Linked DNA regions of Homo sapiens: region 2 is linked to region 1. Evidence: fine-mapped expression QTL. A gene starts in region 1. The other region holds a variant in brackets. All regions are shown on one strand. Distances are between the middles of the regions.

What was found. PIP is the estimated chance that this variant, and not a neighbour inherited with it, causes the effect.
Region 2: its variant is fine-mapped to the expression of HEATR4 in nasal epithelium (TOPMed, PIP 0.93).

Annotation. Positions count from the first base shown.
Region 1 is chr14:73,552,864-73,563,291 of GRCh38, forward strand. HEATR4 (HEAT repeat containing 4) reads right to left here and starts at 6,084. Exons shown (of 18, transcript NM_001220484.1): 1 at 5,888-6,084. RefSeq lists enhancers at 907-1,419, 6,916-7,085.
Region 2 is chr14:73,503,996-73,515,580 of GRCh38, forward strand. It overlaps HEATR4 (HEAT repeat containing 4), which reads right to left. Exons shown (of 18, transcript NM_001220484.1): 6 at 10,036-10,239; 7 at 8,011-8,154; 8 at 5,317-5,478; 9 at 4,139-4,299; 10 at 2,472-2,576. It also overlaps a transcript of ACOT1 not described here. Among named protein-coding and RNA genes, the nearest start is that of RIOX1, 19 kb to the left of the region's middle. The variant T/C (reference allele first, on the strand shown) is at 6,235.

The DNA of each region.
Region 1 (10,428 bases):
GACCCCTACACCTCTTGGGTGCCACCCAGGCCTGTCTGTGTGGGCAGCTCCCCCACCAGCTCCCTTCCATCCCCCATGGGTCCTATCCAGGGTTTCCCCGACCCAAGCACACACTATTCGGCATTCCTGACTCCCACTGTTCCTGGCTCACGGCCTGGCCACCTTGTCTCGCTCATCTGCCATAGCCCCTGCCTGGCCCAGCAGGACAGGCCTAGGTCAGGGCAAGGACAGGTCAGCACCAGGGCTGGTGCCCCACCCCGAAGGACACAAGCCTCCTGCTCAGGACACTTTCTGGGGTCCTGTGCCTCCCCTTCTTCTCCCCCAGGTGCCAAGTCCCCACTTTTTAATACTATCGCATTGAGGCTGGGCATGGTGGCTCACACCTGTAATCCCAGCACTTTGGGAGGCTGAGGTGGGCGGATTACCTGGGCTCAGGAGTTCAAGACCAGCCTGGGCAACATGGTGAGACCCCATCTCTACTAAAAATCCAAAAAATAATTAGCTGGGCTTGGTAGCACTCGCCTGTAATCCCAGCTACGGGGGAGGCTGAGGCAGGAGAATCACTTGGAACCCAGAAGGTAGAGGTCCAGTGAGCCGGGATCGCGCCACTGCACTCCAGCCTAGGCAACTGAACAGGACTAGATCTCCAAAAAAAATTAAAATAAAAAAGTATTATCACATTGGGTATTAGGTTTGTTAAATAAAAATTATTGCTGTGGAGGATACACTTGAAGGGAATGAAAAAAAGTATAGGAGACTATTGTTTTGCTTTTTTTTTGTTTTGTTTTTGAGATAGAGTCTTGCTCTGTCCCCCAGGCTGGAGTGCAGCAGCGCAATCTTGGCACACTGCAACCTCTGCCTCCCAGGTTCAAGCAATTCTTGTGCCTCAGCCTCCCTAGTAGCTGGGATTACAGGCATGCACTAGCATGCCCCGCTAAGGCCATTGTTTTGGACTAGGCTCTAGCACTAGGCCCCAATAGACAAGACTAAAAACCAAAATGGCGTCACCTGTGCTAAAGTTTCACCCAACCTAAACTGAAGTGTTACCTGGCCTTCTGAGAAATCAGGAGAGAAATAACAGCCAATTTCCCAAACATGCCAGTTTTGATCTTTAATTATCATGACAATGAGGTTCCCCTCTGCTTTAATCTGTACACAAAAGAATTAGCCAGCTGGGCATGGTGGCTTACTCATGTAATCACGGCACTTCGGGAGCCCAAGGCAGGCAGATCACTAGAGACCAGGAGTTGGAGACCAGCCTGCCCAACATGGTAAAACCCTGTTTCTATGAAAAATAAAAAAAATTAGCAGGCATGGTGGTGGGGGCCTGTAATCCCAGCTACTCAGGAGACAGAGGCAGGAGAAGCGCTTGAACCAGAGAGGCAGTGGTTGCAGTGAGCCGAGATATTGGATTAGGCAGTCAAAAAAACCAAGCAAGCATAAAAGGTCAATAAGTTGTAATCTTGATAGTAAAAGTGGAAAACTTATTATAAATGGAAAGAAAGTTTTGATTTCCTTTTTTGTTTGATGGGCAGTATGCCATATTATACCCAAAGTTCGTTTAAAAAATATTTCCATCAACTATTTTTATTTGAAATAAATATTTGAGGTAAGTTACCAAGGCAGCTTTTTTCCTCAAAAGTAACCTGTTCCTCTTTGGAATAGCACATTTTAGGGGCATGGTTAATACCTGAGATTTTTACTCAGTAAATCCTGATGGTTACTATGTGTAAAATATCTTTAAGTAGGATTGAAGGCCTCTGTGGGGAATAAAATATTACCAAAGTCTATAAAAATAAATTTTACATGTTCTCCTTTATGACAGAGAGCAGCACTGGTTCTGCTACTTTTAAAATGAATAATTGATTTCTTGATAGGTGTTTGATATTTCTTCCCTCACTGCTGATTCTTAGATAGAAACCATTCTTTATATTTGATAGACTGTTTTCAGAAAACCCTTATCAACAAGTGTACAATACTTATCTGAAACTATACGTTTAGAATGGAGCAGTTTAATACTAGATCTCAGAAATTTGAAAAATAGCAAAGAAGACTGGATTTGGAAAGCATGGTCTACAATTGCTTGTCAAATTCTGAAGCTATGAAGAATAAATGTTTCAACTTTGGATTATGAAACCCCATTTATGATTTTTTAAATAAACTTGAAATAAAAATGATTAAACTAAAAAAAAAGAATGTAGAGGGAGAGATCAATGTAAAAATTTATTTAAAGAAATAGTAACAGAGAACTTTCTAAAACTAGAGAAAGATATGAATATACAGGTATAAGAAGGTCATAAAACACCAAGCCAACTCAGCCTCAATAAGACTACCTCAAGGCATATAATAATCAAACTCTCAAAGGTCAAGGCTAAAAAAGGATCCTAAAAGCAGCAAGAGAAAAGAAGGACATATTAATAACATCATAAAGGAGCTCCAATATGGCTGGTAGCAGACTTCTCAGCAGAAACTTTACAAGCAGAGAGTGGGGTGACAAAGTGCTGAAGCAAAAAAACTTCCAATCTAGAATATTATATTCAGCAAAAACAGCCTTCAAACATGAAAGAGAAATAAGGATATTCTTAGTTAAAAAAAAAAAAGTGAGAGATTTTGACATCAGACCTGTCTTATAAGATTCTTGTTAAGAGGAGTTCCTCACTGGTTGAGTATGAATGGTCAAATGAAAAGAACATTAATATTCTCCTGCCTTGCATATTCTTCTAAAACATTTTACATTCCTAACACATCAGTGTGTCCACATCTTGCTTCTAAGGCAGGGGGCAATTTGATCCTAAACAGTTGAAAAATGGGATGAGGACTCATTTCATCCCCAGATGACTACCTATAAGGAGTGATTGGCTAGGTGGGTGGCTCACGCCTGTAATCCCAGCACTTTGGGAGGCTGAGGCGGGTGGATCACCCAAGGTCAGGAGTTCGAGACCAGCCAGCCTGATCAACATGGAGAAACCCCATCTCTACTAAAAATACAAAATTAGCCAGGCATGGTGGCACACACCTGTAATCCCAGCTACTTGGGAGGCTGAGGCAGGAGAGTTGCTTGAACCTGACAAGCAGAGGTTGCAGCGAGCCGAGATCGTGCCACCGCACTCCAGCCTGGATAACAAGAGCAAAACTCTATCTCAAAAAAAAAGGAGTGATTTAGGGTGTCCGCAGATAAATGCCCTTTAGCCTTTGACATAAAGAATCTTTAGTTACAATGCAAACATCCCAGAAAGAATACCATATTACCATTATCAATTATTAGAAATTCTTAAGGAGGCTGGGTGCGGTGGCTCACGCCTGTAATCCCAACACTTTGGGAGGCTGAGGCAGGCAGATCACCAGAGGTCAGCAGTTCAAGAGCAGCATGGCCAACATGGCGAAACCCCATCTCTACTAAAAATACAAAAAATTAGCCAGGCATGGTGGCAGGCACCCGTAATCCCAGCTACTCAGGAGGCTGAGGCAGGAGAATCGCTTGAACCCAGGAGGCGGAGGTTGCAGTGAGCCAAGATCACACCAGTGCACTCCAGGCTGGGTGACAAGAGTGAAACTTCTTCTCAAAAAAAAAAAACAAAAAAAACTTAAGGAATAGTTATTATCATCCGATATGATGGCTTATTAAGAAGGAAGGGAACACATGATAGGTCTGTTTTGAAAAGGAATGGGGACAGAACAAAATGTTACACAAGGTCTGATCAAAAGAGGCTTGTTCTGGCTTGTCTTTGTCTGTCTTGGAGTCACGGGACAGGTGTAAGGCCAAATTGTGCACTTCCCAGTCATGTTACCTTGGGCAAATAATTTGAAATCTGTAGTTTCCCAATCTGAAAATTGAGTCTGATACCTGTTCTAATTTAGTGTTGATTGATATGAACCTCAAAATTAGAAACGTATGAAAGTTCTTTGCAAACTAAAATATATGTGTGAGGAATTGTTATTATTAGTTTAGAGGATGGACTGTTGTCCTTAGAAGGCAAGTCTCTGGGTCCTACAGTTAGATGCACTGGGCGCTTCGGGAAGAATTTAGGGCTATGGGGTACTCAGCAATTAAAAGAGAGGGTGCTTAGAGAAGAAAGAAAGGACTTATTAATGGAGTTTGGAGGCTCCTTATTATCGAAACTTACACATTACGTGACCAGCATTATGAGGCAGCACCCCACTCCCAACAAATAGCCCTCTAGAACCAAAAGCAGAGTGGCAGGTCCGGGGTCCTTTTGTACATAGACAGCATAAAAAATTGACTAAGTCAATCCTGGCATAACTGCAGACCAGGCCCTGGAATGAGCAACCCACCAGCATTATCTGCATTTCTAGGAACTTGGGCTAGAAGGGGAGGAATGGGGTTGGAAGGGTTAGGCCACATGCCTCTAGTTAAAACCTGATGAACTTCCTAGATCCCCAGCTGGAAAACGTAGGAGTTGGACTAAATTCCTCTCCTGCCTCTAATATTTTATGAATACAGAACTCAACTCAAACTGGGTAGTATCTCAGAGATTCCAAATTTAGTTCCACTTTTCTGTTTGCTTATCAGTCGCTTACCCTCACCCTCTGGTCTGATACCTTTATCCTGTACAAGTGGTCAAAGTAGGTTGAGTAACATGTGCTAAAAGGAGTAATATCTTGCATTCTCCCTTGTTATTAAAATAGAGGAAACTGCCTTGAAAGAAAAGACTAAAAAGCAATAAGCCTTAGTATCAGTATCTTCTGAAAGCTTTAAAAAAATAATACTCTCATCTCTACCAACAGATTTGGATTCTGAAGTTCTGAGGTGGAGTCCAAGAGTGTGCAGTCAGCTTCTGGGGTGGTGTTTGTTAGATACAGTTTTTTGTTTATTTATTTATGTTTGAGACAGGGCCTCACTCTGTCACCCAAGCTGGAGTGCGGTGGCACAGTCATGGCTCACTGCAGCCTTGCCTCCCAGGCTCAAGCAATCCTCCTGCCTCAGCGTCCCCAGTAGCTGGGACCACAGGTGTGCACCACCATGCCTGGCTAATGTTTTAAAACTTTTTTTTGTAGAGACAGGGTCTTACTATGTTGTCCAGGCTGGTTTCAAACTCCTGGAATCAAGTGATCTTCCTGCCTTGGCCTCCAGAAATGCTGGGACTATGCCTGGAATAGATATGGGTAAAGAACCTTTTACATCAGACTCTTGTGTCCTACTCCCAGAATGCTGATTCAGTAGCCTGCAAGTGAGGCCTAGAAATCTGCATTTTCACAAGCTCTCAGGTTTAATACACAATACATTTAAAGAAAGCACAGCCCAAAGGGTGTCAGTGGGGTGTATGAAGGAAGCCTGGTTAGTGGGGAGAGTGGGATTAGGGAACAGCTGCTTAACCTGGCTTGTTTCAAGTCCCCCTTTCTCCCTTTTTGCCCTCAAAAAGTTCCCCTCATTTTTTCCCCTCTACTTTCTAATTTTTTACCATGCACTCACACAGCTATACAGCTATCTCCAGAGATTACTCTGGAAACTCTGCTATAAAGATGACCTGGTCTAATGCCTTGATTTGTTTTTTTTTTTTTGAGACAGGGTCTCACTCTCCTGGAGTACAGTGGCGTGATCATGACTCACTGCAGCCTTGACCTCCTGGGCTCAAGCAATCCTCCCACATAGCTGGGAGCATAGGCACATAGCACACCACTCTCGGTTAAATTTTTTTTTTTTTTTTTTTTTTTGTAGAGATAGAGTCTCACTATGTTGCTCAGGCTGGTCTTGAACTCCTGGACTCAAACAGTCCTCCCACCTTGGCCTCCCAAAATGCTGGGAATACAGGCATGAGCCACTGCACCAGGCCTAATGTCCTGATTTTATAAATCCCAAAACTGGGGCCCAGAGAGAAGAGAAATCATTAAGATCACCATACTGCTTGGTATCTAAAGTAGTACTGACCCTTTTGACACCTAATCCAAAGTTTTTTCAGCTACCTCAGGTTGCCCCTCATCTTCCAGCTGACACCATCCAGCACCTTTCAGATACTGGCAAAGGAGCAGTGTTTCAAAATTACTTTCCAAATGGCCTCCTAAAAGGCAGTCCTCAGAGAGAAGCAAGGTTCTGCATCTTAAGCCTTCCTTGGTTTCTTAGGTTCCAAAGCTGTTTCTATCAGTCTCCAAGCAACCAACTCTTTAGAATTCCATGAGTCTACTCAGAGAACTTGTGGGTTCAGTCGGGGGTATATCTTCAACCATTTATTAAATTTCCTTCTTTGTAAACTGAGCTTTGAGAAATTGCATCTTATTTATTGATTATTTATTGAATGGTAGTTTCATGGAGTTTTTGGTCTTTTTTCTTTTTTGAGACAGTCTCACTCAGTTGCCTAGGCTGGAGTGCAGTGGTGCGATCTCGGCTCACTGCAACCTGTGCCTCCCAGGTTCAAGCAATTCTCCTGTCTCAGCCTCCCATTACAGGCCACACCACCATGCCCCACTAATTGTACTTTTAGTAGAGATGGGGTTTCACCATGTTGGACAGGCTGTTCTCAAACTCCTGACCTCAAGTGATGTGTCCGCCTTGGCCTCCCAAAGTGCTGGGATTTGCAACTGTGAGCCACCACACCTAGCCTCTTGGTCATTCTTTGAAAAATAAACCTCAGCCAGGCGCGATGGCTCACGCCTGCAATTTCAGCGCTTTGGGAGGCTGAGGTGGCGGATCACCTGAGGTCAGGAGTTAGAGACCAGCCTGACCAACATGGTGAAACCCCATCTCTACTAAAAATAGAAAATTTAAAAAGAAAATCACCTGGGCCTGGTGGCGCATGCCTGTAATCCCAGCTACTCGGGAGGCTGAGGCAGGAGAATCGCTTGGACCCAGGAAGCAGAGGTTGCAGTGAGCCAAGATCAGGCCATTGCACTCCAGCCTGGGCAGCAAGAGTGAAGTGCAGTCTCAAAAGATAAAAATAAAAAAACCCTCTAGATATATGCAGCTCCATATTCTCCCACCACAAGGGTTTATAAATCCTGAGAAAGAGGCAAAGCAGGGAACACATGACCACATAGTTCTGGCAGGCGTCAGATTACCAGGCTGATAAAACAGATGGTAAAGTAGAAGCTGTCCGTCGACTTTTCCATTCCCCTTTCAGCTCCTCCACTGCTACTTAATCTCCTTTGCCCACACAGTTCAATCCCATTTTCCCTGATCTCTAAATCCTGGCTAGATTATTAGCCATTAACACTAGCTTTTACAAGGAGACTCTTCAATCTTGTATTTCTAATAGTATAATTTCACACGTACAGAAATTCTTTAAGTCATAGAAGTCTTACAGATACAGAAATTCTGATCTTCAAGAGTCCCTTTGTGAAACAAACTAATTTATCCTGACAGCAGGAAAGATTTCTGGGCCTAAGGCTCTGTCTCGTTGACCCAGGTCATGCTATTCAGGTGGTCCATCTCTTGGTTCCAAGCAAGACTGCTGCTGCTGACCAACCTGAATATGGACTTTAGCACTTGAGCTCAAGCTGCACTCAGATGGTTAGACCCCCATAAAAAGCAGAGGGTACGTTTTCTGTTATGAAAAGTAAAGACTGAGCCAGGCGCTGTGGCTCACGCCCATAATCCCAGCACTTTGGGAGGCAAGTTGGGCGGATCACGAGGTCAGGAGATTTAAACCATCCTGGGTAACACGGTGAAACCCCATCTCTACTAAAAATACAAAAAAATTAGCCAGGCGTGGTGGCAGGCGCCTGTAGTCCCAGCTACTTGGAGGCTGAGGCAGGAGAATGGCATGAACCCGGGAGGCGGAGCTTGCAGTGAGCCGAGATTGGGCCACTGCACTCCAGCCTGGGCGACAGAGCAAGACTCCATCTCAAAAAAAAAAAAAAAGAAAATTAAATACTAAAAAAATTAAACATTATAACCCTGCTAAGGCAGGAGGATCATTTGAGCCCAGGAGTTTGAGGCTGCAGTGAGCTATGATGGCACTACTGCACCCCAGCCTCAGTGACAGAGGGAGACCCTGTTTCTAATAAATCAAAACCCTGTTGAAGGTTCCTCAAAAAATTAAATATAGAATTACTATGTGATCCAGCAATTCTACTTCTGGGTACATATCCAAAAGAATTGAAAGCAGGGACTTTAACAGATATTTGTATACCCATGTTCATAGCAGCATACTCACAATAGCCAAACGGTGGAAAGAACCCAAATGTCCATCAGTGAATGAATGGATAAACAAAATGTGGAAGATACATACAACAGAATGTTATTCAGCCTTAAAAAGGAATGAAATGGGCTGGGCGTGGTGGCTCAGGCCTGTAATCCCAGCACTTTGGGAGGCCGAGGAGGGTGGATCACCTGAGGTCAAAAGTTCAAGACCAGCCTGGTCAACATGGTGAAACTCCATCTCTACTAAAAATACAAAAATTAGCCAGGCGTAGTGGCAGGCGCCTGTAATCCCAGCTACTCAGGAGACCGAGGCAGGAGAATCTCTTGAACCCAGGAGGCAGAGGTTGCAGTGAGCCAAGATCTCGCCATTGTGGTCCAGCCCGGGCGACAGAGCGAGAGTTTATCTCAAAAAAAAAGAAAGAAAAAAAAAGAAAAAGGAATGAAATGGGCCAGGTGCAGTGGCTCACGCCTATAATCCCAGCACTTTGGGAGCCTGAGGCGGACAGATTACTCAAGGTCAGGAGTTCGAGACCAGCTTGGCCAACACAGTAAACCCCGTCTCTACTAAAAATACAAAAATTAGCTGGGCATGGTGGCACACACCTGTAGTCCCAGCTACTGGGGAGGCTGAGGCAGGAAATCACTTGAACCCAGGAGGTTGCAGTGAGCCAAGCAAGATTGCACCACTCCACCCCAGCCGGGCAACAAGAGTGAAACTCTGTCTCAAAAAAAATGAATGAAATGGCTGTGTGAGGTGGCTCATGCCTATGATCCCAGCACTTTGGGAGGCCGAGGTAGGAAGATTGCTTGAATGTAGAAGTTCAAGACCAGACTGGGCAACAAAGTGAGACCCCCATCTCTACAAAAAACTTAAAAAGTATCCAGGTGAGGTGGCACGTGCTTGTCGTCCCAGCTACTGGGGAGACTGAGATGGGAGGATTGCTTGCACCTGGGTGTTGAGACTGCAGTGAACTGTGATCTTGCCACTGCACTCCAGAGCCTGGGTGACAGAGCAAAATTCCTGGGGAGAGTGAAGTTATGATATGCTGTAAATATATGGATGAGCCTTGAAGACAATATGCTAAGCAAAATAAGCCAGAGATGAAGGGCCAAATACTGTATAATTACACTTTATGAGGTACCTAAAGTAGTCAAATTCAGAGACAGGAAGTGGAATAGTGGTTGCCAGGGGCTGGTGGCAGTGGGGAATAAGGAGTTATTGTTTAATGTTGTGGGAAGTCAAGGACCCCGAATGGAGGGACCGGCTGGAGCCGCGGCAGAGGAACATAAATTGTGAAGATTTCATCTTAATATGGACATTTATCAGTTCCCAAATAATACTTTTATAATTTCTTATGCCTGTCTTTAATATCTTAATCCTGTTATGTTCGTAAGCTGAGGATGTACATAACCTCAGGACCACTGTGATAATTGTGTTAACTGTACAAATTGATTGTAAAACATGTGTTTGAACAATACGAAATCAGTGCACCTTGAAAAAGAACAGAATAACAGCGATTTTTATGGAACAAGGGAAGACAACCATAAGGTCTGACAGCCTGCGGAGTCGGGCCAAAAGAGCCATATTTTTCTTCTTGCAGAGAGCCTACAAACGGACGTGCAAGTAGGAGAGATATCACTAAATTATTTTCCTAGTAAGGAATATTAATATTAATACCCTGGGAAAGGAATGCATTCCTGGCGGGAGGTCTATAAACGGCCGCTCTGGGAATGTCTGTCTTGTGCCGTTGAGATAAGGACTGAGATACGCCCTGGTCTCCTGCAGAACCCTCAGGCTTACTAGGGTTGGGAAAACTCCACCCTGGTAAATTTGTGGTCAGACTGGTTCTCTGCTCTCCAACCCCGTTTTCTGTTGTTTAAGATGTTTATCAAGAAAATACATGCACCGCTGAACACAACCCTTATCAGTGGTTCTGCTTTTGCCCTTTGCCTTGTGATCTTTGTTGGACCTTTGTCAGTGGTTCTGCTTTTGCCCTTTGTCCTATTCCCTCAGAAGCATGTGATCTTTGTTAGAACCTTATTAGTGGTTCTGCTTTTGCCTTTTGAAGCATACGATCTTTGTACCCACTCCCTGTTCTTACCCCCGCTCCCCTTTTGAAACCCTTAATAAAAACTTGCTGGTCTGAGACTCAGGTGGGCATCACGGTCCTACCAATATGTGATGTCACCCCCAGCGGCCCAGGTGTAAAATTCCTCTCTTTGTACTGTCTCTATTTGTCAGCCGGCCGACTCTTATAGAAAATAGAAGGAACCTACGTTGAAATATTGGGGGCGAGTTCCCCCAATAGTTTAATGGGTAAAGACTTTCATTG
Region 2 (11,585 bases), 48 kb before region 1:
AATGAATTGGAAGTTGTTAAAATGATATTGTTAAGATGCAGATTCTGATTGAGCTGGCTTAAGATGAGATTTTTGCATTTCTTTTTTTTTTTTTTTTTTGAGACGGAGTTTCACTCTTGTTGCCCAGGCTGGAGTGCAATGGCACGATCTCGGCTCACTGCAACCTCCGCCTCCTGGGTTCAAGTGACTCTCCTGCCTGAGCCTCCTGAGTAGCTGGGATTATGGGCATGTGCCACCAAGCCTGGCTAATTTTTTTTTTTTTTTTGAGACGGAGCCTCGCTCTGTTGCCCAGGCTGGGGCGCAGTGGTGCGATCTCAACTCACTGCAACCTCCACCTCCTGGGATCACGCCATTCTCCTGCCTCAGCCTCCCGAGGAGCTGGGACTACAGGTGCCTGCCACCACACCCGCCTAATTTTTTTTATTTTTAGTAGAGACAGGGTTTCACCGTGTTAGCCAGGATGGTCTCGATCTCCTGACCTCGTGATCCGCCCTCCTTGGCCTCCCAAAGTGCTGGGATTACAGGTGCGAGCCACTGTGCCCGGCCGATTTTTGCATTTCTAATAATGCTCCTAGGTGACGCCTGTGCTGCTGGTCCAGGACTTTAGCAGCAGGGTGCTATAGCACTTGAGACAGAACTAACCCAAGTCCAAAACCTTTTCAGGTGATTACTGTACTGAGTGGCCAGATTTTGTGCTTCCCATATCAAAATGTCAGGGTTACAGAGTGGAGGTTGTTCACTTATCATGGGAATGGCAATGTTCTGGGCTATTCTGGAGATATCCAAAGTTATAAGGAAAAGATGAAGTAGCACATAGGAAGAAGGGAAAGCTCCCATTTGGACAGCTGAAGATGATTGGGAAATAATGGCAAAAACGAAGTGTTGCCTGGAATTCCCTCTTTAGTTCTAGCTGAGCCCCACCATCTTCACCGACAGTTGGTTTGTTTTTTTTTTTAGATGGAGTCTCGCTCTGTCGCCCAGGCTGGAGTGCAGTGGCACGATCTTGGCTCACTGAAACCGCCGCCTCCCAGGTTTAAGCGATTCTCCTGCCTCAGCCTCCAAGTAGCTGGGATGACAGGTGTGTGCCACCATGCCCAGCTAATTAGAGATGGGGTTTTGCCATGATGACCAGGCTGGTTTCAACCTCCTGGTCTCAAGTGATCCACCCGCCTCAGCCTCCCAAGGTGCTGGGCTTACAGGCATGAGCCACCGTACCGGACCCCTTCACAGAACTTTAACCAATAAATTTAACCCACACTAATCTCTCTCTCTCTGAAAAGTTTTAAAAGGGTACCTTATATTTATTGCTTGTTCTTGAATCATTTGTGTATATTAGTCTTATTGTTCCTACCATAGTGTTAATTTTGTGAAAGTTGGGACAATGGTTTTTTTGTTTTGTTTTTTTTTGTTTTGTTTTTTGAGACAGAGTCTCGCACTGTCGCCCAGGCTGGAGTGCAGTGGTGCGATCTCGGCTCACTGCAACCTCTCCCTCCCAGGTTCAAGCAATTCTTGTGCCTCAGCCTTCCAAGTAGCTAGGATTACAGGTGCCAGCCACCACACCTGGCTAATTTTTGTATTTTAGTACAGATAGGATTTCACTATGTTGGCCAGGCTGGTCTGAAACTCCTGAGCTCTGATCCACCTGCCTTGGCCTCCCAAAGTGCTGGCATTACAGGTGTGAGCCACCGTGCCCGGCCGGGACTATGTTTTATATGTGTGTGCCGAACACTCTGAGAAGCAGCACAGACACTCATTTAGATGGGTTTTTGGGTAGTCTAAGTCAGTGCTTCTCGAATGATCTTTGATGAAGAACCAATTTTGGCGGGGGGGAAATATGTCATTGACTGATAAAGTCTGTTGATATTGAGGCAATATCAAATTACTATAAACGTTTCTTTTTTTTTTTTTTTTTTGAGATGGAGTCTCCCTCTGTCACCCAGGCTAGAGAGCAGTGGTGAGATCTTGGTTCACTGCAACCTCTGCCTCCTGGGTTCAAGCGATTCTCCTGCCTCAGCCTCCCAAGTAGCAGGGATTATAGGCGCGTGCCACCACACTCTGCTAATTTTTGTATTTTTAGTAGAGATGGAGTTTCACCATGTTGGTCAGGCTGGTCTCCAACTCCTGACCTCGTGATCCGCCTGCCTTGGCCTCCCCAAGTGCTGGGATTACAGATGTGAGCCACCGCACCCGGCCTACTATAAACGTTTCTAAACTCCTGTCAGTTTTTGTGCTATTTCATTGTGGATCAGTTACCAACAGTTTATGGACCACCAGTGCACTGAGAAGCATTGGCTTCCAGACAGACATATTAGCATTTGAAGATAATTCTGGGCTAGAAGTAAGAAGTAGTGATGTGGGAACAGAGATCTGTTTGGTAAGAATGGAATAATACATAGCAGCAAAAAGTAGAAGGCCTCTGTAGCTCAGCCTCTCTTAGGCTTTCTGTCCTGGAGGCAAAGAAAGAGGTTTACCAAGCAGACATTTCCACTGATCCGGGAGAAAGCCTGGCAGGCCACAATCCGGTTCTTCCATTGACAGCTGTTCAGCTCCACAGCAAGCATGGTGTGTATCAGGGTCTGAGGAAATGGAAGACTTGTATGGATATTCACAATCACTTTTAGAGATACTAGAACCTTGAAGTTACATTCTGAAATGGCATCCTGCATAATTAATGTCACCAGTGGGCTTACAAGAGATGGGGCATGTTTCCATCACAGCCAACTGACTCTGGGATCATAAATTGGGGAACAAAATACAAATTTAATAACTTAAACAGAAAACTGGGACCTTCCTTTCCTGACTTTAACTGTTTTTTTTTTTTTTTTTTTTTCTGAGAAGGTTGTCCCCCAGGCTGGAGTGCAGTGGCACAATCTCGGCTCACTGCAACCTCCGCCTCTCGGGTTCAAGTGATTCTGTTGCCTCAGCCTCCCAAGTAGCTGGGATTACAGGCGCCTGCCACCACGCCCGGTTAATTTTTGTATTTTTAGTAGAGGCGGGGTTTTACCATGTTGGTGCCAGGCTGGTCTTGAATTCCTGACCTCAGGTGATCTGCCTGCCTCGGCCTCCCAAAGTGCTGGGATTACAGGCGTGAGCCACCGTGCCCGGCCTTCTGTCTTTAACTGTTTTTACCCCTAAAATGATTTTTATATGCCTCAAGCTTATGACTTTCACATTTCTATTGAAAGTAACTAAACACAAATATAGGCCTCTGCAGTTTTCAATGGTAAACTTCTAGCAGAAGCAAATTCTACATGTCAGAACTCTTCTTGCATATGCAAATAGAGACCATTTGCAACCTAATTCTCACTTTTCTCTCAGCTAACTATTGTGACTTCCCTTTGTATACACCTCTACACCCAGGTTTACTCATGCTTATTCTACGTTTACTTATGCTTGAGATTGTCAACCCAACCGGCTGCATTTTATCTAATTAATTAATTGTGTAATTAATTTTTTGAGGCAGGGTCTTGCTCTGTCGCTCAGGCTGGAGTACAGTGGTGTGATCTCAGCTCGCTGCAGCCCCAACCTGCCAGGCTCAAGTGATCCTCCCACCTCAGCCTCTTGAGTAGCTAGGATTACAGGCACATACCACCATGCCTGACTAATTTTATTTCTTTTTTTGTAGAGACAGGGTCTCACTATATTGCCCAGGCTGGTCTTGAAATCCTGGACTCAAGGGATACTCCCACCTCAGCCTCCCAAAGTGCTGGGATTACAGGCGTGAGCGACCATGCCCAGCCCAGCTGCATTTTATTTTATTTGTTTGAGACAGAGTCTTGCTCTGTCACCTAGGCTGGAGTGTAGTGGCGTGATCTCAGCTCACTGCAACCTTCACCTCCCAGGCTGAAGTGATTTTCATGCCTCAGCCTCCCGAGTAGCTGGGACTACTCAGTGTGGTACCACTGCACCTGTCTAATTTTTTTATTTTTAGTAGAGATGAGGTTTCACCCATGTTGGCCAGTCTGGTCTCGAACTCCTGACCTCAAGTGATCCACCTGCCTCGGCCTCCCGAAGTGTTGGGATTACAGGCATAAGCCACTGCCCCGGCCCCAGCTGCATTTCAGATTGCTTACATTCACTGACCTCAAAGACCTAATTGCTCCCCAAAACTGTGTCTGACCCGGTAATGGACACATACTGTCTTCTCACTCAGATAGCTCAGGAGGATATAAGACTGTTCCTCAGTGTCCTCATTCTTCTTTGTAAACAGCTGGTGGAGGATCCTCTTAATCACAGGGTAAGTAGCAGTACCTTCCAGAGCCAAGCACTGAGCTGCAGCCCAGCTATCCACACTGTTACCTGCCACAGTTGGGTGAAAAAGAGTTCAGAATGGTGATGTGTTTTCCCCCTAGAGAACAGCCTTTGGATTGATACCCAAGGCTGCTACCCCACCTGATATCTCACTTCCTTGTGCCCCACTCAGTCTAGAAATACAATTTCTTATTTAAACCATATTGAGAAGAATCATATTGGCTGGGCACGGTGGCTAACACCTGTAGTCCTCACATTTTGGGAGGCCAAGGTGGGCGGATCACCTAAGGTCAGGAGTTCAAGACCAGCCTGGCCAACATGGTAAAACCCCATCTCTACTAAAAATACAAAAATCAGCCAGGCGTGGTGGCATGCGCCTGTAATCCCAGCTACTTGGGAAGCCGAGGCAGGAGAATTGCTTGAACCCAGGAGGCGGAGGTTGCAGTGTGAGCTGAGATCCCACCATTGCACTCCAGCCTGGGCAACGAGAGTGAAACTCTGTCTCAAAAAAAAAAAAAAAAAAAAAAAAAATTTAGTCCAGCTACCACTTGGTGGCAGTGTACCTGTTTTGTTAAAGTACCTAGAAAGAGCAAATTTTCTTTTTTTCCTTTTTTTTAGAGACAGGGTCTTGCTCTGTCACCCAGGTTGGAGTACAGTGGCACCATTGTGGCTTATTGCAGCTTCAACCCCCTGGGCTCAAGCTGACTCTGATAAGCATGTATATATAGGTCTGCCTCAGCCTCCTAGGTAGCTGGGTCTACAGGAGCACACCACCGCACCTGGCTAATTTTAAAATTTTTTATAGAGATGGGGTCTTGTTATGTTGCCCAGGCTGGTTTAGAACTCCTATGCTCAGGTGATCCTGTCGCCTTGGCCTCCCAAAGTGCTGGGATTACAGGTGTGAGCGACAGTGTCTGGTCCTAATTTTCAAATGGTCTAACATAAATCTAAACCCAATACAGCAGACATTGCAGAGCATCACAGTGGAGAGGAAAGGACTGGGAAAGCTGATAGTGAGATGTCTATCCCATATTTCCAGGTCAGAAGTAACAGGGAGTTACTCACCCTTCAGAAGGGCAGTCTGCATGATGTTCCGGGCAAGGGGATTATGTGACTGTATGGCATATTGGCATATTGCTGCTGCCATCCGCACATGGGCATTCTTGTCACAAAGAGCAGCCTCTAGGGCAGGCAGTAGAACCTCCGGCAAGTCCTGGATGGTCTTGTCTGTGATCAAAAGAGCCAGGTAAGAGAGTACTAGCCCCTTTGCTTTTCTCACACACAGCTTCCTTCCTACAGCCATGTGGTGGCCAACCTCAGTCCCAGCTGCAGTTGCTTAGTGCTATGTAATATAATTACAGTTTAGCTGAGCCCTTCAGATGGGCAGGATTTTCTGCTCAAGGTGTTAAAGCTCACCTGTGTGCTGGTATGCCAATTCCCAATCCTTTATCATCTGGCCTCTAAACAGCTATATTTAAGCCGAAGAAGAATGTTTCCAGCTAGGCTACAGTGAACTACACCATTAGTTTTAGTGATTAAAAGCAACCAATTTGCCCCATGAGCCCATATATATATATATATATATATATATATATATATATATATATATATATATATATATATTTATTTATTTTATATATTTTTTGAGACGGAGTCTTGTTCTGTCACCTGGGCTGGAGTGCAGTGGTGTGATCTCAGCTCACTGCAAGCTCCGCCTCCTGGGTTCACACCATTCTCCTGCCTCAGCCTCCCGAGTAGCTGGGACTACAGGCACCCAGCTAATTTTTAGTATTCTTAGTAGAGATGGGATTTCACCGTGTTAGCCAGGATGGTCTCGATCTCCTGACCTTGTGATCCACCTGCCTCAGCCTCCCAAAGTGCTGGGATTACAGACGTGTGCCACCGCCCCCAGCTGAGCCTTTATATTTGTAAGAACAATTATATTTAGGTAGTGCTTTATAATATAGTGTTTTTACATTATCT[T/C]GTTATCTTTCAACCTTGGTTGAATTAGGCAAGGTAGGTATCATTGTAGAGCTCACTAGGGAGTCTTTTTTGGTTCAACTAAACAGTAAGGTTCATAAGACTGTCATGGGCCATGCATGGCACCAGAAGAATATGGGACAGGAGCATAGTTTGTCAACAGGGCAGCAGCATCAGGCATCCCTGTTGGCTGGAGTTTTTTTGTTTTTGTTTTTGTTTTTTTTTTGAGATAGAGTTTTTGCTCTGTTGCCCAGGCTGGAGTACAATGGCACAATCTTGGCTCACTGCAACTTCTGCTTCCTGGGTTCAGGCGATTCTTCTGCCTCAGCCTTCCGAGTATCTGGGACTACAGGCACCTGTCACCACGCCTGGCTAATTTTTGTATTTTTGGTAGAGATGAGGTTTCACCATGTTGGCCAGGCTGGTCTTGAACCCTTGACTTCAGGTGATCCACCTGCCTTGGCCTTCCAAAGTGCTGGAATTACAAGTGTGAGCCACCACACCTGGCTTTGGCTGCAGTTCTTGAGGCTGTCTTGAGCATTCCACAGAGTCTTGGGGACAGCACAGGAGCATGTTGTTTATTCACTGGGTGAATTTATGCTTTACAGGAACTAATATCTCTTATAAAAACTCCATAGACACAATTCTAGGGTCCACAAAGGGCCTGCCTGTTATAAGTTACAGTATCCAGGGAGGCCCAAACTATGGTGTCCCTATCAAGTATTTATATTTCACTTATAGCTCTTCTCAGTCCCAATGTAATTTATCAAACAGGATTTATATCATAACCAATGTTGCCTATAAAGATAGTTCTTATCAGGTGTTTAGGGGAACAGGTGGGCATTTAACTGAAGTTCAAATTCTCAAGTAGGAAGGGGAAAGGTTTGTTATCCCTTTGTCTACCACTAGTCTCATTTTATAGATAGGTAATTTGAAGCTCAGAGAGGTTAGCTGACTGCCCAAGGAGTGGCACAGCTAAGCCCGTGAATCATATTTTAAGATTTTGTCAGGTGCGGTGGCTCATGCCTGTAATCCCAGCACTTTGGGAGGCTGAGGTGGGTGGATCACTTGAGGTCAGGAGTTCAAGACCAGCCTGGCCAACATGGTGAAACCCCATCTCTACTAAAAATACAAAAAAATGAGCTGGGCATGGTGGCACACGCCTGTATGTAGTCCCAGCTACTCGGGAGACTAGGGCAGGAGAATTGCTTGAACCTGGGAGGTGGAGGTTGCAGTGAGCAGAGATCGCGCCACTGCACTCCAGCCTGGGTGACAGAGCAAGACTCTGTCTCAAAAATAAATAAATAAATAAATAAATAAATAAATAAATAAATAAATAAAATAAAATAAAAAAGAATGGGCTCTTGGCTGGGCACAGTGGCTCACGCCTGTAATCCCAGCAGTTTGGGAGGTTAAGGTGGGAGGATTACTTGAGGCCAGGAGTTCAAGACTAGCCTGGTCAACATAGCAAGACACAGTCTCTACCAAAAACAAAAACAAAAAAGAATGGGATCTTCAAGGTGGGAAATGTTAACTTCTCTGCAGGCCACTGAGCAAACAAAAGGTGATGAAATGTAGTTCAAAAATTACTGGACTAGAAGTCTGGAATTTTAATCTCGTCTCTATTGCTGATAAGCATGTATATATAGGCCAGTCTCTAAGTCTTGGTTTCCACATTTGTAAAATGATCTCAGATAAGCCCTGGGTCCCTACCAGTTCAGATGTTCCATGGCTTTATGAGTTGCTTATGTTCTCAAGCAGTTCAGCTTTGGCTCTCACCTGAGTCTCTCTGGCTGGTGGCAATCCGGGGCCGTTCCAAAGCAGCTGTGGCACATGTGGTGATAGCTTTGATCCGAACGTCATCATGCAGGTCTCCCAAGCTCTGAAGCAGGTTCTCTACTGTCTCATGGTGCCACTCTATGACTGAGCCGCAGTGAGGGAAATGAAAAGAGAACCACCTGGTTAGGGTTAGATATTGTGCTGCAGGCAGGTGACAAGAAGTCTGCCCTTCACCCAGAATAATTCAAGCAAAACATTAGCTCAGAAGAATAAAGGGCCCAGAGATGGGGTCTTTAGGGAGTTATTTCTCTGATGATCCATGTACCCTCACAAGTAAGTTCCCAGACAAAACTTCTCCCAACCCCATCGTATCTATCTCTCTTTCTTTAAATCACTTTTCGTTGTAACCATCTGGGAAATAAAAGTGACAATAAAACAAAGTAGTTAAGAGTACTTTGTTTTCAGACATACCTGGTTTGGGATCACAGTTATTAGCTGTGTGACTGTGGATAAGTTACTTAACCCTGAGCCTGAGATTTCTTATTTGTAATACAGGCATAATACTAGAACCCACATATTGAGTTATTCTTACTGTTAAATGAGTTAACTAGACAAAGTGTTTAGCAAAATGCCTGGCAAGATAATGAAGGTTCAATAAATGTTAACTATTGTGGTTTTCATTAGGTTCTTTGTCTTTGAGGGCACTTCCATTTGGCTTTCAACATCTTCCTCATTTTAGTTGCTAAATACTCTTTTGGCAGGTATCAGACTTTTATTTCAAAGCTCCTATTATCTGTAGGTGTTTCCTTCAGTCTTTTTTGTTATTGTTTATCTGATCCAGTTTACCTAATGGATTGCCTCTCTTTTTCCTGCACTAACTAAGCTTGTCTATCATGTTCTGAAAGCCAGCAGCTATTGAGTTCTCAAATACCATAGCTTTCAACAGTCCTTGCCAGGCCATTACTTTGTCCCAGGCACTCAGACTTCTACTCTCCTATCTTTGAAGGCAAAGTAGGTATAGGATAGCCCCAACTCTACGAATGAATTTTGGAGAGGGGTTGCTGATACCATAGTCAACTATGACATGGACAATGGTTGGACAGCATATTTTGTTCTTCCCTTCATACATCATTTGCTGAGCATAAAGTTTGGAAAACAATAAGATAGGGTCGCCTGGGTGCAGTGGCTTATGCTTGTAATCCCAGCACTTTGGGAGGCCAAGGCGGGGAGATCACCTGAAGTCAGGAGTTCGAGACCAGCCTGGCCAACATGGTGAAACCGTGTCTCTACTAAAAACACAAAAATTAGCCAGACATCATGGCACATGCCTATAGTCCCAGCTACTTGGGAGGCTGAGGCAGGAGAATCGCTTGAACCTGGGAGGTAGAGGTTGCAGTGAGCCCAAATCAAGTGCCATGGCACTCCGGCCTGGGCAACAGAGTGAAATTCCATCTCAGAAAAAGAAAAAAGGGCTGGCGCGGTGGCCAAGGCGGGCAGATCACCTGAGGTCAGGAGTTTGAGACCACTCTGGCCAACATGGTGAAACCCCATCTCTACCAAAGATACAAAAAGTTAACCAAGTGTGGTGGCGGGTGCCTGTAATCCTAGCTACTCAGGAGGCTGAGGCAGGAGAATTACTTGAAACCAGGAAGCAGAGGTTGCAGTAAGCTGAGATCCCACCGTTGCACTCCAGCCAAGGCAACAAGAGCGAAACTACGTCTCCAAAAAAAAAAAAAAAAAAAAAAAAAAAAATGGTCTCTGCCTCTGAAGAGTCTGCAGTGTAATAATGAGTTTCCACAAATTACTGAAGTAATACCCATCCATGCAAAAAGCACCCAGATATATGTTAACTGAAGTTCATCTAACACCCAATGTGTGAAAGGCTCTTGTCTAGCCTTAATGAGGCAACCAGATTTTTACATTTCACAAAGGAGGGATGGATTTTTCAAAGACTGAGAAAGCCTAGTCCCAGATGAGAACCACTTCTCACAAACGTACAGTATCACAGGACCTCCCTTCACTCACTCAGAGCCCAGGCAGTCTTCCATTCCTTCAGCATCCTCCGCAGGACCACCAGTTCCCAGGTCACATCCTCCTGCAGTGATTTTGCCTGCTTCTTCAATCTCCTGGTCTTAATAGGCACATCCTTCTCACCCACCTGCAGCAGCATATCCTTGGCGGGGGTGGGCAAAGCAGTCCAGCGCAGGGCTCCTTGCACAGGTCTGTAAGCTGTGCAACGTGGCAGTGTGAGGTCTTTTCACCCCACTGCCTTAGGCCCTGCCACACAGTGGCCCCAGCTTGCATCCCATTCCTATTCCTGACTAATACCAAAGCAAAACAAAACCCTCAAGAGTGAATTTCCCCATGATTATATGGGGAACTGAGTACATGTACACAGGGAATTATGGAAAGTCCTGACTAGACATGGTAAGCCATGATGATGATGGGGGTGAGAGATTTGTGGGGGGAAATTGAGATATCTACAAACCTTTCTATAAGTTTAAAGGTTATCTTTAGGAACCTAAATCTTTAGGAACATAAATATGTTTATATGTAACGAGATTTGCTCATAATATTTGATACGTTGCAATTTAGTGTCATTGGCCATTATTTCTAAAGTATTAAGTTTTCCTTTTAATGTTTTTAATTTGGGGAGAATAATAGTGCTATAAGCTGTGAAATTTTAAAGATTTTAACATCTCTGAGTTTTTCCTCAAGACAACAGAAATTTGAGAACAGAAGAAGCCGTAAATATTAGATATAGTTAGAAAAGCTATAGTTGGCCGGGTACGGTGGCTTTTGCCTGTAATCCCAGTACTTTGGGAGGCCGAGGCGAGCAGATCACGAGGTCAGGAGATCGAGACCATCCTGGCTAACACGGTGAAAACCCCGTCTCTACTAAAATACAAAAAATTGGCCGGGCATGGTGGCATGTGCTTGTAGTCTCAGCTACTTGAGAGGCTGAGGCAGGAGAATCACTTGAACCTGAGAGGCGGAGGTTGCAGTGAGCTGAGATTGCACCACTGCATTCCAGCCTGGACGACAGAGTGAGACTCCGTTCTCAAAAAAAAAAAACAAAAAAAAAACTATAGTTATATTTTCTGAACTTAATGTTTTTCATGGTGTCAAATTTAGAAAGCCTCTTTCTCAGAAAAAAAGCTCTATGGAGAAGGGGAAGGGAAAAATGATAAAAACATTTCCAGATGTACTAAATTCATTATTCACACTGCCTATTAGTCTCATGTTCTAATCAGTCACTATCAGCCATTTCTGTTTTTTTCCAAGATTTCATTCTGACTCTTAACACCTTTAGATTTGCTCTGAATCAATTCTTTCCTTTGAGCAAGGAAGACATAACATTTCTTTCTTCTAATGTAAAAAGAGTCCTGTGAGGCGGGGTGCAGTGGCTCATGCCTGTAATCCCAGCACTTTGGGAGGCCAAAGCGGGTGGATCACTTGAGGTCACAAGTTCGAGACCAGCCTGACCAACATGGTGAAACCCTGTCTCTACTAAAAATACAAAAATTTGCTAGGCGTGGTGGTGGGCGCCTGTAATCCCAGCTACTCGGGATGCT